2 separate regions of the Homo sapiens genome follow, and region 2 is linked to region 1. Evidence: fine-mapped expression QTL. Tissue or cell type: sigmoid colon. Region 1 holds a variant in brackets; the other region holds the start of a gene. All regions are shown on one strand. Distances are from middle to middle.

The links. PIP is the estimated chance that this variant, and not a neighbour inherited with it, causes the effect.
Region 2: GNA14 starts here. The variant in region 1 is fine-mapped to the expression of GNA14 in sigmoid colon (GTEx, PIP 0.90).

Annotation. Positions count from the first base shown.
Region 1 is chr9:77,602,449-77,610,966 of GRCh38, reverse strand. The region is part of intron 1 of GNA14 (G protein subunit alpha 14); the gene reads left to right. Among named protein-coding and RNA genes, the nearest start is that of GNA14, 42 kb to the left of the region's middle. The variant C/T (reference allele first, on the strand shown) is at 4,864.
Region 2 is chr9:77,645,076-77,653,593 of GRCh38, reverse strand. GNA14 (G protein subunit alpha 14) reads left to right here and starts at 5,272. Exons shown (of 7, transcript NM_004297.4): 1 at 5,272-5,924. The coding sequence starts at 5,801.

The sequences.
Region 1 (8,518 bases):
TGGCAAGGACAAAATCATCTTTGAAGTGCAAGGGAGGAGAAAAACTTAAGGAGTGAAACCAGAGTCCCCTTTCACACAAATGAGAGAGGAAAAGTTGCTGACATTCATTTGTTAATCCTCTCTGTCCCATTATAAGCAAGATCCAGTCTTCTTACATCTTACAGATATTTGCAATAGGTGATTCTTGTTCTTCTCTGTTCTAGTCTGTAATATTATAACAGAAATATGTATCAGAAATAGCTTATTTGGTTGCTATCATTTGATCAAACTCATAGATATTGGCATTAATATATAAATGGCTTATTTAGCTTTAAGTTTGTGAGTGTAGAGACGCATATTATGGAATAAAAGTTTGTATCTCTCTTAAAATTTATATGTTAAAACTCTAATTCTCAATGTGATGATATTTGGAAGTGGGGCCTTTAGGAGGTAAATAGGTTAGATGAAGTCATGGAGATGAGGCCATGGTCCAATGGAATTAGTGCTCTTATAAAAAGAGACAACAGAGATTTTGCCTCTGTCTCTTCAACATTTAAGGTGTAGGGGCAGAAGGAACTTTCCACCCCATGAAGATTTAATAATTTGATTCTGTAAAACAAACTGACAATAGACAGATTAACAAGAGAAAAGGCAAACATATTTGTTAATGTGCAAGCACACAGGAGCCACACAAAATAGGAAACTCAAAAGGACCAGAAGGCTAAAGTTTAACTATTCTATAGGGGAGAGGGAGGTGGGGGATGTAGGTAATTTTAGAGGAAGAATACATGATTTTTAGGGGAAATAAATGAACCCAAAGAACAGACAACAGCTTAGGACAAAGTTCCTCTGGGAAGGTGAGGGGTGGAACTAAACTGTAAACAAAGTTTGTGTTATTATTCAGATAAAGCCTCTCAGGTAATAAAAGTTGTTTTGGAGCAGCCTCCAGAAGAATAGGTAGTAGCCAGTCTGGGTGTGGTGTTGACTTTTAATATCTTCTGCAGTGATTAATCTTCCCTGGTTGTTTGATGAGCTTCCTAAAGAGGTGGATCAAGACAATTGCAATCCTTCTGGAAAATCTTCCCTTGGTCAGATACATGAACCTCCCTGCATTTCAAAAAGGAAAGAGGTGGTGGCGGGCTGGATCAGGAGAAGATCAGAGAGAGACTTTGATTCTGAGGCTTTTAAATCACATTTGTTCAAAGCGCTCAGCATGCCAAAGGGCCATATTTTGAGGATTTTTTTCTGAACCCCAACAGAGGATACAGCAATAAGGCGTGATGGCTGCCTGAAAAATCAGGATGTGTTTTCTCCCCAGGAATCAAATCAACCAGCACCTTGATCTTGGACTTCTCAGCCTCCAAACTGTGGGAAATAAATTTCTATTGTCTAAGCCACCTAGACTGGTATTTTGTTAGGAGTATTTTACTTTGGTACCAAGGATGGTGTGCTGCCATAAGCAAATATCTAAAAATGTGGAAGTGGCTTTGAAACTGGATAATGGGTAGAGCATGGAAGAGTTTTGAGGTGTGTGCTAGAAATATGGATGTTAAAGGCAATTTTGGTGAGGGCTTAGAAAGAAAGGGGAGAGCTGGAGAGAAAACCACCATCTTTGTAGAGAATACTTAAGTAATCATGAATGCAATGCTGGTAGAAATATGGACATTAAAAGCGGTTCTGGTGAGGTCTCAGAAGGAAATGAGAAACAGGTTATTAGAAACTGGAGGAAACTGCTACTTTATTATAAAGTGACAGAGCACTAGATTGCATTGTGTTTGTGTTCCAGTGCAGGCAGTGAAGTTGATATTTAGCTGAGGAAATGTCTAAGCAAAGTATTGAAGGAGTACCTTGGTTCTTCCTGACTGCTTCTAGTAAAATGGAGAAAAGAGAAATGAATTTAAGAAGGAATTCCTATGCAAAAAGGAACCAGAACTTGAAGATTTGGCAAATTCTTAGGCTATCCATATTGCAAAGAATGAGAAAGATTATTCTGAAAAGAACACTAAGGGTGTGGCTGAACACTATTTGATAAGGAGATAGTATGGATGTGAATGAAGGATTTGATCAGCTATTTCAACAGAAGCCGGGAATGGGGATGGGATTATACCAAGAGAAATGTTGCCAGCTGGGACTAAAGGGGGCAGAAATAAACAGGAGTGACTGAAAGAAGGATGTTGGGCCATCGCCAAGGTGCTATGGGGAAATTAAAGTAACAAAATTAGAAAAAATTATTAAAAAGCAAAAAAAAAAAAAAACAGGATATTGGGCTTCGTACATTGTCAGGATAGGATGATGGGGCCATTTGGCTGTGAACATGCTTTATCTTTCAAGAAAAGGGAAGAATAATCCCAAAGGCAATTTGGAGAGCATCAGAGCTGCCACTCTTACCACAGGTCAAGGGGGCAGGGCTGGTTCCTCATCTGTTTCAAAGGGTTGGGTGGCCATTCTAGTTTTTGCTGGCCAGGATGCCTCTGCCCATGACTTCATTCTCCCTTAGAGAATCACATGGGGTGGGCCTTTCCAGAGAGCCAGGAGACTGGGCTCTCACAGGGAAGAACTCATTCCAGATTTAACTCCAAAGTCTCATCTAAATACCATCTAAATTAGGTATAGGTGATACTCAAGGTACGATTCATCCTGAAGCAAAATTCCTCTCCATCTGTGAACCTGTGAAATCAAATTATGCACATTCAAAATCCATTGATGATGCAGGCATAGGTTATATAGATATTCTCATTCTAAAAGGGAGAAATCAGAAAAAAGAGATGACATGTTCCAAGCAAGTCCAAAACCTAGCAAGGAAAATTCGATTAGATGCTAAGGCTTAAGAATAATCTTCTTTGGTTCAGTACTCTGCCTTCTGTCCCCATTAAGGTAGCAGCATCATGCCCTTGGCTCTGGGGCCGTCTTGCCCCCAAGGCTTTTTGTGAGAGCCCCACCACCTTTGCATTCAAGATGGACATGAATTTTGGGAGCCCAGAGGAAGAATATTATGGCCTGAATGTTCCCCCTACCCCAAATTCAGATGTTTTGAAGCCTTAACCCTCAATGTAATGTTAGGAGATGGGGCCTTTAGGAAGTAATTAGGGTTAAGTGAGGTCAGGAGGGTGCGGTCCCAGTCCAATGAGATTAGCACCCTTATGAGAAAAGACACTAGAGTTTTTTTTTCTCTCTCTCCACCATGTGAGGACACAGTAAGAAGGCCAGTGCCTGCAAGCCAGGAATCAGGCCCTAACCAGGAACTAAATTGTTGGCGAAAATCTTGATCTTGGACTTACTAGCCTTCAGAACTGTGAGAAATAAATTTCTGTTGTTAAGCCACCCAGCCCTAAGAAACAAATACAGAGCAGCAAGTAGGTATGAAAAGACATTCAGCACTTAAAGAAGTTTGCAAAGTTCTTAGAGTTGGTTTCCTTGGAAACCTTGTTGGTATTACAGCCTTTCTTTATTGCACCGATGTTCAAGTGTGTGAGATGCAGATGAAGGTTATCTGCAGAGGACACATATAATGTTAGACCTAGCATGCCCTCCTTGAGAACCTTACTACAGCCACTCCAACTCCCATACACACTTGAATCTTCTGACTCAAACAGTGGTTCCATCAAGCCTCTCTTCCTGTGTACTGACTTATGGTGGCTTCTTCTTTTAGGATTCATCAGCAATCACTTATTCTGATTTCTTACATATGCCTTCTCAGCATGTCACTTGGCATCTCTCGTCTGTGTGAGCCAGTGATTAACTTGAAATTCTCTTACTCTAATTCTGTGGTAACTGTTCTATTTATTATTACAGACTGTTGAAGCTCCCAGAAAATCTCCAATCATTTTGTGCAAATCCATTATTTTACAGATAAGAAGAGAAAAATGTCTTAATCAGCTTGGGCTGCTGTAACAGAATACCGTAGACTGGGTGGCTTAAATAACAAGCGTTTATTTCTCATAGTTTCAGAGGCTGGGAAGTCTGAGATCAGAGTGCCACCATATTCGGGTTCTGGTGAGGGCCCTCTCCCTGGCTTGCATTGCCTGCATTTTACTGTGTCCCCACTTGGCAGAGAGAAATTCTGGTGTCTCTTCCTGTTCTTATAATAAGATAAATCCCAACCTGGCGTCTGCATCCTCATGACCTCATCTAAACCTAATTACCTCCCAAAGGCCTCACCATCTTATATCATTGCACTATGGGTTAGGGTTTCAACACATGACCTTTGGGAGGGACATAAACATTCCGCTCATAACAGAGAGCTTAAGGAGGTTGAAGATGTTGAGGCTTACACCTTTTTTTCCTTTCACAACAATCCACAAAACTGCTTCCCCAGGAACCCCAAATAAGGAAACCCTTTACAACCCATTTGGTGGCAGCATTCTGAAAGAATTCCCTTCTGAGCCTTTGATAAGTTGCACTGAGCATTACCAGTATGCATGAGACATAGCATCTAAACACAGATTTCAGTTTTTATATTCCTTTTACTTCTTTTAGTGATAATGGCCATTCACTTCCTGAAAAGAGAGGGCTATGAATATTAAGAAGAATCCAAGAGGGTGAGATTCTGGTTTTGTATAATCATAGGAAAATATTCATTAACTAATTCCAAAAATAACAACCAACTTAATGAGTTTGTAGGGAGAAATGTTGCTTGACTTTAAGGAGATTTGGAAATACTTACACTTAAAAGATGAGAAAGAAGGAGTAAGAATGAGGCTTCTTTTCCTAGTAACTGGAAACATAACCTTCTTAGAATTTATTTTTTGGTAGGAGATGGCTTTTTTCTTTCCCTTTTGGAAAACAATAACTTTTAATTGCTGATAATTTCTCCTGGGTCAAGGCTTTAAAAGGACAGAATAGTTTTCTTCCTTCTGCTAGAGTAATAAAGCACTTAAAATGTTT[C/T]TGTTTCATTTCACGGCTGCCCACTGAAGAATCTAGTCCATCTTGTTCTGGTAAACATTTCCTGAACCACTTCATTGTTTGAGTTTTTTCCCTCCATTAACAGGAAAGGGAGATATCTCTCAACAGAATATATGAAACTTATCAGGAATTACCCTCTGCCAATGGATAGTCTCTTACCTAGTTTTGTTTTGGAGTGGAAAAATAATGCTGCTTATAATAGGATCTTAGAACTCGAAAGGAATTTAGAAATCATAGAATTCAACTTCATAATTTCAAGCTGAGGTAACTGAGACTAAGGGGCGAAACTTGCTAACTAGAAAAGATTCAGTACTAGAACTAAAGTTCTTTGGCTTTCAGCTCAGTGCTGTTTCTGGCCTATAATACTGGTCTCCTTTCTAGTTGGATAGGTCTTTGTCGGCTATATTTCTCTTTCTGTGCCTGGCTTATTTCACTTAACATAAGGTCCTCCTGGCTCATCCATGTTGTCACAGATGACAGGATTTCCTTCTTTTTAAAGACTGAGTAGTATTTCACTGTGTTAATGAACCACATTTTCTTTATCCTTTCACATGAAAGTCTTATGACCTGGTTTAGAGGAGGGTCAGGAAATCTTTCCTGGGTTGTATGACCTGTTTGGGGGAGAAAAGTGGGAGGAAGGTGAGAGTGACCTTCCTGCCTCTGTCATTTTCTCAAATGCCAATGTGCCATATTGTAGGATAGCACATCCTGAACCCCATCACCGGGGTGGCTGGGATGTCATCTCTGTATAGAAATCTTATTCCAAGCACTTACGTGTTGAAGTAAAGAGCCCATGTTTGCATCTTTCCACCCAAGGATTGGTCATCTCTGGTCAAGACCTGAGGTCCAGGATGAGCTCTTTCCCACAGAAACTTTGACAAATGTGTGGACAATAAAGAAGCACTGCTTCCCTCATTCACCATAGCTCAGCTGGATTTATAGATTTAAATCTTTTAACGAAAAAGTTCATGTTGAGGTATTTAGATACTTTTTAGAGGGTTAAATACCAAGTTACAGTGACATTTAAACCGAGTGTCTAGAACATGAAGGCAAAGAGTCTGCTATTCGGAGGTAAATTTTATCAGTGTTTGAAAGGTGAAGCATTTGCTCATGAAATGTTGAATGAATTTCTGTGACATGGCACGAGGGTGGTAAGAAAAAGTGGAAACTCAAAGATGTATTTTTGCTTCATCCACCAGAGGACTGGAATGTTGGGGGATGCTGAATCAGTGAGCAAAGCAGAAAGAATGATAGAATCATTGGTAGCATCTTCGGGGTTTACGTAGTGCTTTTGTCTAGTTTGGTCCTTGCAACAACCCCATAGGTGGTCAGGTATTGTTTCTGTTCTACATGTGCAGAAACCCAGATACATTGAGCCAATGGTGGAGCCATGACTTGATCTCAGGCCTCTGGGCTCTGGATTATGTGATTTTGCTTCCATGTCATTCTGCTTCTTTGGTAAGGACTGAAAGGTGGATGGTCAGGATTACCAGGTGCTTAGCAATGAGAAGCCAGCCAGAGGAATTTATCTTACTGTGTTTTCAGACAGTATCCATGGAAATGTGGACTTGAGTGATGAGCCTGTCCATTGCTCATGTGGCCAGGTTCACTTAGAGGATTAGTGACAGCATGTGTAAGGAACGTGACCAACACTGAATCCCACCCTACTCTGCTGACTTCAGACTTCCACTTAGGGCTTTACCAAAGTGAGAGAGACTAAACTTCAGCCTTTGATGCTTGACATTTTTATAGGTTCTGGAAACCTCTATCTCTACCGGATAGTTGATTTTCTCTAAATACAAAGCACAGGACTGTCAGTCTGTGAGACCTTGTCTTATTTGGCTGTGGTTTTGGGTGTAGCAGAACAGAGCATTGCAAATTTGTTGACTGAAGTGTTTTTAGCAGCAGAGAAGGATGAAAGAGGAACACCTGGGCAGGAGCTCAAGCAATGGCATCTCAGCCGAAATAGCTCTGAAGTCTTATATTTACAAAAATTTGTGGGAATTTTACATTATGCTGTAAAATATTTATTACCATATTAAAAGTAATGTTCCAGATTAATTGCAATGAGTGATAGTGACTCTCTAGACTTTTCTCAGAGGTGTTTTTTTTTTTTTTTTTTTTTTTTTGTTTTTTTTTTTTGAGATGGAGTCTTACTCTGTCTCCCAGGCTGGAGTGCAGTGGTGCAATCTTGGCTCACTGCAAGCTCCACCTCCCAGGTTCACACCATTCTCCCGCCTCAGCCTCCCGCCACCACGCCTGGCTAATTATTTTTTGTATTTTTAGTGGAGACGGGGTTTCACCATGTTAGCCAGGATAGTCTCAATCTCCTGACCTCGTGATCTGCCCTCCTCGGCCTCCCAAAGTGCTGGGATTACAGGCGTGAGCCACTGTGCCCGGCCTCTCAGAGGTTTTGACTCCCGTGACACATTGCTGGCTGCCCTTGGATTCCTCTTCTCAGTTTAAGAATTTCTGATTCTTAACTCGTCTCAGTTTAAGAATGCTCTTCCTAAACTCACTTGATTTTCATTCCATTTCCTCTTTCAGGAGAGCTACCTACTCCTGCAAATGATGTCTCTTTCTATGTAGAGTAGAAAGAATAGAATTTCTATTGTTACACAAATATGCATTGTTTTCCCAATATGAAAATACTGGAACTCTTCATTCCTAAAACATGTAAGGTCAGAGAGCTTTATTCTAAAGCTTTATTCAAAGTTCCAGGCTTACCCTGGAACTTGAGCTCCTCCTGACCCTTGATGCCAGATAAAATGTGTGGTTGGGGGGTTTGCATCAGTGGCTCTTAGGCATTTACAGCCATCAGACCAAACATTTCACACACAAAAGCTATCACAATGGCTAAGAGAAAGGGCATTGGTTTTGGAACAGTAGGAGATGATCTCTGGTTTTAATATAAACATAATTGTTCATGAAAGAAGAATATGAGTACACCCATGCAGCAGTCATCATTTTGAGCCAGCCAACTGTGTGAAGAGCTTTGTGGGCCAAACTTTGGGAGCCACTAATTTGTTGGAAGCCTGGTACAACCAGATGTTTGCCCTACTTTAATGAAGACAAAAAAGAGTTGGCAGCAAGGAAATGTAATCTAGGGCATTTATGAGTTGGGTGGCAGATTAAATGTGTACAGTACAGGCTACATACTTTGTGGGGCCAGTGCAAAATGAAAATGTAGGGTCCTTGGGCAAAAGTTATAGAGAATTTCAAGACAGTAACAGCAGAGCATTAAACAAAGCACAGGGCCTTTCAAAGCATGAAGCCCTGTGCAATTGCACAGATCACATGCCCATGAGGCCGGCCCTGATAAAGTTTCTTAAATTGGGAAAGTTGTGGGTGTAGTTTGAGTGTGAAGGAAAAAAAAAACAAAACCATTAATACAAAGGTAATAAATGAGAAAAAAGGAAAGGCGAATCCCATGAGGAACAAGGTTGCTTTGTAAGTGAAGTGTGGAAAAGCCATGGTCTATGCTGGAGAGGAGGAGAGAGGAGAATGCTACAGGCTGGAGAGAATGACCCAGAGATCTGATGTTACAAACCAGGTCTCTCCCAGGGGTGGGTCGGGAGGGCTAGTGGGTAATATTCTAGTTGACAGAATAACATCCATATAAGGCACAAAATTGATT
Region 2 (8,518 bases), 43 kb before region 1:
AATATAGAGTTCGTGTAATGTAGCTTCGTTTTAAAACTAATGATGACAAACTTACTCTGTGTATATTTACACGTCTATGAAATTATTTACTCTTATATAGGATTATCAGAGCACAAAGAAGTGAAGAATACATCCTAGGTTATTAACATGGGATCATTCAAGAAGAGAGTGATGTAAATGGAGGGGGAAATTTAAGCAAAAAGGAAAAGAAAACAAGCCAAATAATCACCTCCAAACTTCACATTTTAAAGAGTTTGATTTCTTCTTGAGATTCCCCAACTTCAATGAAAAGTCACATTCAAAAACAAACAATATCAATTCCTGCCTACTCACAGTCATGTGTGTTTGAAGGCAGACTTCATTGTCTATCATCCCAGCGTTTTCGGTAACAGTTATATAATAAACAATTTCTGGTCTTCAGACAGAGAATATTGTAGAGCAACATGTTGACATGTTGATTGCCTTAAAAAAAATAGATGTTGAGTGCAAGCAACCACTAGCATCAGTATTACACATCCATCTAAATATCCATCAGTTGGGAACAATAGATACTGGGGACTCCAATAGTGGGGAGTGGGGGCAGGGGAAAGGGGTGAAAAACTACCTATTAGTTACTGTGTTCACTAATGGGGTGACAGGTTCAATTAAAGGCCAAACCTCAGCATCACAAAATATACCCATGTAACTAACGTGCACATGTACCCACTGAATCTAAAATTTTTTTAAAAACAATCAATCAATCAATCATTATCCATCATTGCTCCATCAACTCTCACCTACCAAACTAGAGCCAATGGGTGGGATGGGGAGTAGAAGTGACGGGGAAGAAGGATTGAAAACATTTTAGAGAACACATTGAACTCAAACTGAAAAAAAAAGAACATATTGGATTCAGAAAAATGAATTAGAAAATTTGGAATCATTTACACTAACACATTCAGGAGATGGACAAGCAGACTCCCACTGATGACTGAGCTGCTTAAGAGTTGATACACGTACAATTAAAACTAAAGTTTTTCTCACTGAACTCTGGGTATTTGGCTTAAAAATAAAATAAAACTAAAGATGTGGTGGCTTATGCCTGTAATCCCAGTACTTCAGGAGGCTGAGGCAGGGGGACTCTATGAGGCCAGGAGTTCAAGACCAGCCCGGGTAATATAGTGAGACCCTGCGTTTACAAAATATAAGAATAAAAAAATAGCTGGACATGGTGGCATGGGCTTGTAGTCCTAGCTATTTGGGAGGCTGAGGTGGGAGAACTGCTTGAGCCTAGGAGTTCAAGGCTGCAGTGAGCCATAATCACGCCATTGCACTCCAGCTTGAGTGACAGACACTCTGGCTCTTAAAAAAAAAAAAGTTAAAAAACATTTTATTAAATAATAATACATACAGCAACCTTGATATTGGCTCTTTATATTTTATTCTTAAGAAAAAATATTGGCCACACCCTAGGAATGTGTCACAACTGCAGTTTGAAAAATGCTGACATAGAGCAGCAAAGGTACATTAGTATTAGTGCTTTGTGAACTTCCTCAAGGTCCTATTTTTACTCTATGTTACTTGTTAAGTTCAGAGACAATACACTTGTGAAAGTGAACTGCATCTTTCCAGCCCTCTATTTGCACATTTCCTTGGCATTCTGAATTAGAAACAGGGCAGTCATTCTCTCTAAGGGGGCCAGTGGCAGGTGAGGGCAGCTCATATATACAAGTTCTTCCTAAGTTATACATTCATTTGTTTTGTACTTGCTTATTGGTTTTCACTGTCTTCCACCACAAGAACCTTCTTTTCTTGCATCTCAGACTAATTCTTCTTGGTTTCAGTATTTAAGGTTAGTCAACTGAAACTTGCTAATTTAGGAATACCAGGATAAGTAAGAAAAACTCTTTACCTGTGAGTAACTCATAGATTAGAAGAAACAGACGGGTGTAATAGAGTGAGATGTTGACAGTGTTCCAGCAGTAGGGAAAGATGGATGTAACTGACAAGGGCTGGAGTTGCTTCCTCAGAAGAGATGTAATTGAAAAAGAAATTACCTAATTTTGCCTAGGGTAAGAGATGGTATTCCTGGAAGATGGAACAGCATGCACCGAGGCATGGAGGCAGGAGGTAGGGAGAACAGAAAATTCCATTTGTCTAGAGTTCCAGGAGAGTGATGGAAGATGAGGCTGCTGTGCATATCTGTAGGCCTGGGGAGCGCCCTCAGGTGACTCTGTGCTCTCACTGTTCTCTGGAAGGAAGCAGGAAGGGGTAGGTTCAGATTTCAGGGTCTCAGTTTTACTTCTTTCTACTAGACTATAGCTCTACCGAAAGTCTGGAATTGTCTTATTACCTGAATCCTCACTGCCTGGTACAGGGGCTGGTATGGACCTAGTGGACATTCAGAGGGATATCAGACAATTAGCTCACCCCTGTAGCCCCACACTTGGTGGATATCTGAAACTCAGGTCCAGTCTGCGCTCTCGTCTTCAAGATGAATAAAATAAAATTGCAGCTTTTTTGAAATAACTTAGGAAAATAAATATTCTCTTTTATTGAGAACTCTTCTCAAAACTACCCCTTCCTGGAAAGATGTTTCCAATGAATTAATATCTTAAAATTATTATCATTTTACCTTCCAGATTCTACAGATAAGGAAAACAGAGATGAATAAAACATAGAAGTATAAAAATGATTGACTTGTGATATCCCAGTTTTCTGTTTCTTACCAGTGGCTGATGCTCAATAACAACTTTAGGTTTTTGATTATTTTTAAATAAATTTATTTTGGATAAGTGTGAATGTCATCAAAGAAATAATGCATGTTAGAGTTGGGTGATCCTTTTGAGCTTATTCTGGCTTATCCCTCTCATCTTATAGTTAAGGAAAGTGGAGCCTAAATAATTTTATGCAAGCTGCCCCAAATTTTTTCTTTCTTTTTTTTTTTTTTTGAGACGGAGTTTGGCTCTTGTTGCCCAGGCTGGAGTGCAATGGTGTGATCTTGGCTCACCACAACCTCTGCCTTCCGGATTCAAGCAATTCTCCTGCCTCAGCCTCCCGAGTAGCTGGGATTACAGGCATGTGCCACCACACCCAACTAATTTTGTATTTTTAGTAGAGATGGGGTTTCTCCATGTTGGTCAGGCTGGCTGGTCTCGAACTCCCAACCTCAGGTGATCTGCCCGCCTCGGCCTCCCAAAGTGCTGGGATTACAGACGTGAGCCACTGCACCCAGCCCAAATTTTCTAATGAACAATGAAAATCAACCAAACAGCCATGACTCACAGCAAGCTACCTTTTTGATGTGTGTCCCTTCAGTCTCTTAAAAATGTGTATGCGTATTCTTATACTAAAATCTTATCATACTCTTTATATTTTTGGATCTTGCCTTTTTCATTCAATATATTTTGAGGATTTTCTCCAAATTTATTCACATGTTTACTACTCGCATATCCACATATTTAATGGCTCCAAAACATCTCATTGTATGGATAAACCATGATTTAAGTGATCTCTTCCCTGTTGTTAGGTATTTAGGTTGTGAGTTTTTGTTGTTGTATTGGCAATAAAACCTTTGCATCAGTCATGAGGCTTCTTTCTAGTTATTTCTTAAGGGAGAAATTACTGGTTTGGCCGAAGGGGACGGACATGTTTAAGGCTTCAGATATATACTGCCAAGCTGACTAGCCCAGGAAAGTTGTACAGATTTGCCCTAATCAATATGTTTCATAACTGTTTTTGAAATCTTGCCAACTTTAAACCTAATAGGTCAGTATCAGTAATTCCCGTTAACGTAAGAGTTCAAATTTGCCCTAGTTTTAATCATTTAAAAATTTTTTATAATTTTTAAATGATAACAATTATGATGCAACCATGACTTTGAGAAGCCAAGAGATCTTATTCTCAAATTGTAAATGAATCCGTAAGAGCTAAGAGAGAAGAAACAGGCTATTAAATGGCCAAAGATCAAATCTGAAATGTCCAGGAGTTTTCCTGTAGGGGTCACTGTTACTGTCAATTTATGCCTGCAAGAAAACTAAAATAGTCACACATTAAAGCATGTATGCACATTTTTAATGTCTGATTCCTCTACATTTCTTAAACTGTAAAATAATAAGAACATGCAGCCAGATAGCATCGCGATACCAACTTCTTTATATAATGACACGTACCATTCCACTCAATGTGCTCCTCAGTTTGAATTTATAAAATATATGCTACTCAAATGAAAGGCACTTATGCCTGCTCTTAGTAGAGGAAGCGCTAGCTAATTGCCTAACGCCCCATTAGCATATGGCCTATACTGACTTGAGAAGGAAAGAACGTTCATTGCTGTGGCCAATAGGATCCCCTCTCCCCACCTTCCCTTTTCTGCATCAAAATCTACACAGACAAAAGTCAGATGTTGTAATATGCATTTTATCGTGTCACTTAAGTACTAAGAGGTGCTTTTAAAGTTTTTATTAATGCTGCTCAAACTTGACCCCGACGGTCCAGGATACAGGCCAAGGTGTCAGTGCGGACACAATCGCAAGGCGGCTGTTAGGCTTCAGGGCTGGGCAGGAAACTTGCCAGGTGCTACTAGGAACGTATCAGCCCTTTCTACAAAGCAGGTGTCTTTCCCATCATAAAATGCAAAGCAATCAGCCGTTCCCTTTCTCCCCAGCCCCCTCGTCCGGAGACCGAGAGGATATTTACCCTGGGCTCTTGCAGTTCTCTTATAACTGAACCCAGCGGCGGCTCCTTCTCCGAGCTCAGAGCCAGCAGGCTCAGGCCCAGCCACACTTTACAGGCAAATTGCCGAGCTGACCAAGGGCTTTGGCCAAGCCCGAGCTGGGCCGGGGCGTCCGGGAAGCGGAAGGAGCCAGTCTAGGAAATCCGGGTGTGCGTGGTGGTGAAGCTGGTGGGCAAGCTTCCACTTCAGGTCCGGGGCTTTGTGTCCCGCAACAGACGCTTGGCGCCGCTCCTCTTCCAGCCTGCTGCCGCCTTCTCCGAGCGAGTGAGTTGGCGAAACTCACTCACCTGTCGGAACCCGGTGCCTGGCGGCCAGACGCGCAGATTACAGCAAACCTTGGCCGGGACGCCCCAGCCAGGGAGGCAAGTGTGGGAGCTGCTCCTAGAGGTGCCAGCTCCCACCCCCAGCTCCGCGCCCCCTGCTCGTCCCCTTTCACTTCCAGGCGCCTTCGGCTTGGGGTGCCCAGAAGGGCAAGTCCAGCAGACGCCAGGGCTGCAGGTTCAAGATGCTCCGCCTCCTCCTGCCACTTAGAGCCACAAACGCTAGCGGGAACCTTTCCACTCAGTCTTAGTCTGCGGTCACTGCTGAGGTTTTCAGAACTTTCCAGGCAAAGGCCAGCCAGGTCCTTTGCCTCCAACCCACTCCGCGCCTACCTCCCGCCTGGGGACACCCCTAGGCCCAGGAGATCCTACTCTCCCCCGAGCACCGACGTTCCAACTCGTCTGCGCCCCCGACTGCTGTCCGGCTCCTGTGCCAAGGGGCGCGCGCATCTTCCCGGGGCCAGCAACGCTCCCAACTTCTCGACTCGCCCTCCTCCTCCCCAGAGCGAGAGTGGGGCGGGCTGAGCCCGGATCCGGGGTGCACTCGAGCGTTCCCAGCGCTCGGCATTCACCCCGCCTCAGAGCCGACTTTCGAAGGGGGATTGAGCCTCGGAGGTCCAGGCGTCTTACTCCAAAGCTCAAGTCGGCCCCCGTCTTTTCTTTCCACACCCCTGTGCCCGTCGCATGCTGGCCGGGTGAGCGGCCGGGCCGAGGATTCGGGTGCCCGGGGCCGCGTCGCCCCGTCGGGTACTGAGCTGAGCGCACCATGGCCGGCTGCTGCTGCCTGTCCGCGGAGGAGAAGGAGTCGCAGCGCATCAGCGCGGAGATCGAGCGACAGCTTCGTCGGGACAAGAAGGACGCGCGCCGTGAGCTTAAGCTGCTGCTGCTGGGTGAGTGGCTGCGTCTCCGACTCCAGTGAGCCGGGCGTTTTTCTTCCGAGCCCTCCCGGCCTCTCCACTGGCACCCGCGCGGCCCTGGAGCCCAGCGGGGTGCAGGGCGGCTTCGTCCTTCTCCCCCTCGGAGCTCACGGATGCCAGCAACTTGGGGCCTTAGGTGCCTGTTCTTTCCATCTCTGGCTGGGCGACTTGCAAAAGCAACACCTTCCCCTGCCCCAAAACAGGATAGGGACCTGTAACACTTAACCTCTTGACCGCTGTACCTTATGTGTTCCGGTGTGCCCCTCTCCTCAAAACCCCGTCCACTCCTCCGCCCGCAGCACACCCAGCTTGGGGTCTGTGGTGACCCACATCTTGGGTTCAGCGCTAGCTCTGACCCGTACGCTTTCAGTTCTAGATGAAGCATCTTGAGAATTTACCATGTGCCAGATCGTGCTAAGTTCTTAAGGGCATCACCACCTGGTGATGCGGGCAGGTGATATCGCTATTCTAGAGAATTAAAACATGGAGGCCTGGAGAACTGACCAACTTGCCCTGATTGAGAAAAGGCAAAGCCGATGCTAGGTCAGCTGTGGGGGTGAAGCCCATGCCGTTGCTGCTCCTCTGACCGTGAGCTCCTATGCCTGCCTCCCATGGGGGTCCCTCAGGCCTTTGTGTTTGCAGCGGACCCAAACCTCCCTTGCCCAGCTTGACTCAGTGTGTCCACGTCCTAGGATTCAGCTTGGCTGCCCTGGTGCCTCTGGCAGGTCTTCATCCAGCTCTTTTGGTGTCTCTGCAAAGGTCTGGGTAGGACATCCACTTTCAAACACAGAAAGAACACAGTTTAAGGTTTGCCCAAGTTATGCCATGAGGCAAGGATCCCATCTCAGACTTTCTAGAACGCTGTCAACACATTTGCTGTTTGAGGAATATTTTACCTTTTCTACCTTTCAGACCATGATATCAGCTGTCAATTTTTTTCTAGATAGCCACAAAGATTTCAACTTTTTTTCTTTCACCCCTTTTGAACAGGAATCTTCTCTTATACCATCTATTTATTCATCTTTATTCCTTGTATAGGAATCACCCTCCCAGAAAGCTTCAAGGAAAGAAAAAGTTGATCTAGTTAGTGTAATATAGAGAAGGCTCTCAGCCAGTATGGCCTTCAGACCTGGGCGGAAGAACCCCCTTATCCTTATCCCCTGGGTTTAAAGGGCCCAGTCTGGCCTTCTGGGGGTTGGGGGGGGGTGTGCCCCTCCCCACAGAGCTGGAAGTCTGTAGGTCCAAAGGGGCTTGCTACCCAGAGACCATGCTGCCCCCTCCCTCCCAAGACCTGGATGGAATGAATACCCAGCCCAAAGGGACCCATACCAGCTTCTAAGGCCTGAGCCCTAGAAAAGAAGGCAGACCTGATCCCTGGAGAGCTCACAAAGGGGCAGCTGTTTGCTGGGGCGTAAAAGTGCTTGGAAATGTGGGCTGGGTAGGAGTGGAGGGAGTCCCCGTGGGTGCCCAAGAGGCCCCCCTAGGAGAGAGGGAGCTTGGGTGGGGAAGGGAAGGGGCTCTGTTCATTGGCCAGGTCTGCTATTTCTGTGTCTGACCCATAACTTTGAAAAGTCTGAAAATTCTAAATTGTCCCTGGCCTTCTAGGCTGTTATAAAGCTACCTTTGTCAAGGGAGGAGGAATACGTGAGAATTTGCTAGCTTGATTAACACTAGAAAATAACTATGGGTGCGGGGCTTTGTACTTTTGCCCTGAACCCCACAAACCAGAGGGGTTTAGTTGCGTATGTAACTTTTTTCTTTATAAGGGCAGGCTGAACCCTATTTCATTTTGCAATGCTTTGATTTGTGTCAATGTATGAAGTACAGTGTCCAGAATATACCAGGAGCTTGACAAATGCTGGCTCTTTGTATGAAAAATTGTGTAGTCAGCTGAGCTGTACTGTATTGGTAATAAGCCTGTTTGATGTAAAATTCTCGCATTTACCCACAAACTAGGGGAGAAATGTTTGTAGGTAAATTGTTTGCTCTGAAAGTCACATTAATCAGGGTGACCCGAGGGTCTTCTTTATCTTCCCAGGCCATTGCTCCAACCCTCCTCCTACCACCTTGAGGCACTGTCTGACCTCTGGAAACTCCCATTTTCATCTTGCGGAGTTGTGACTAGCATATCCCCTTAGTGAAAACTTTCCTGTGAAAAATAGTTTCTAAACCACACAGAGCCGTTCAGAACTCCAAGGATGGACTTCAAAACCTCTGATTTATTTCAATCTGTAAAGTCCTGGGGCATAGCTCCATTTCTTCTCAAGGAAGAGCCAATGACTCAGAAGTGACAGGAATTAGGGGAGGATGTGCACCATTTTGTCTGAAGTCATGCAATTCGAGTGAAAAATTCACCCATCTCTCTAGTGGGTAGATTAGAGCATCCACTGCTCAGGTGCCTCAGTTAAAAACCTCACTTTGCAAATGGGAGTTTGGAATCCTTTTGTGGAGTATGGGATGACCCCCAAAGACACCATCTCTTTCACAATGAAGCATGCTTTTGCAAAAAAATGATGTGAGGATGTTTCTGAAGTGCAGTATCCTGTTTCTGCTTAATAAAAGCACAG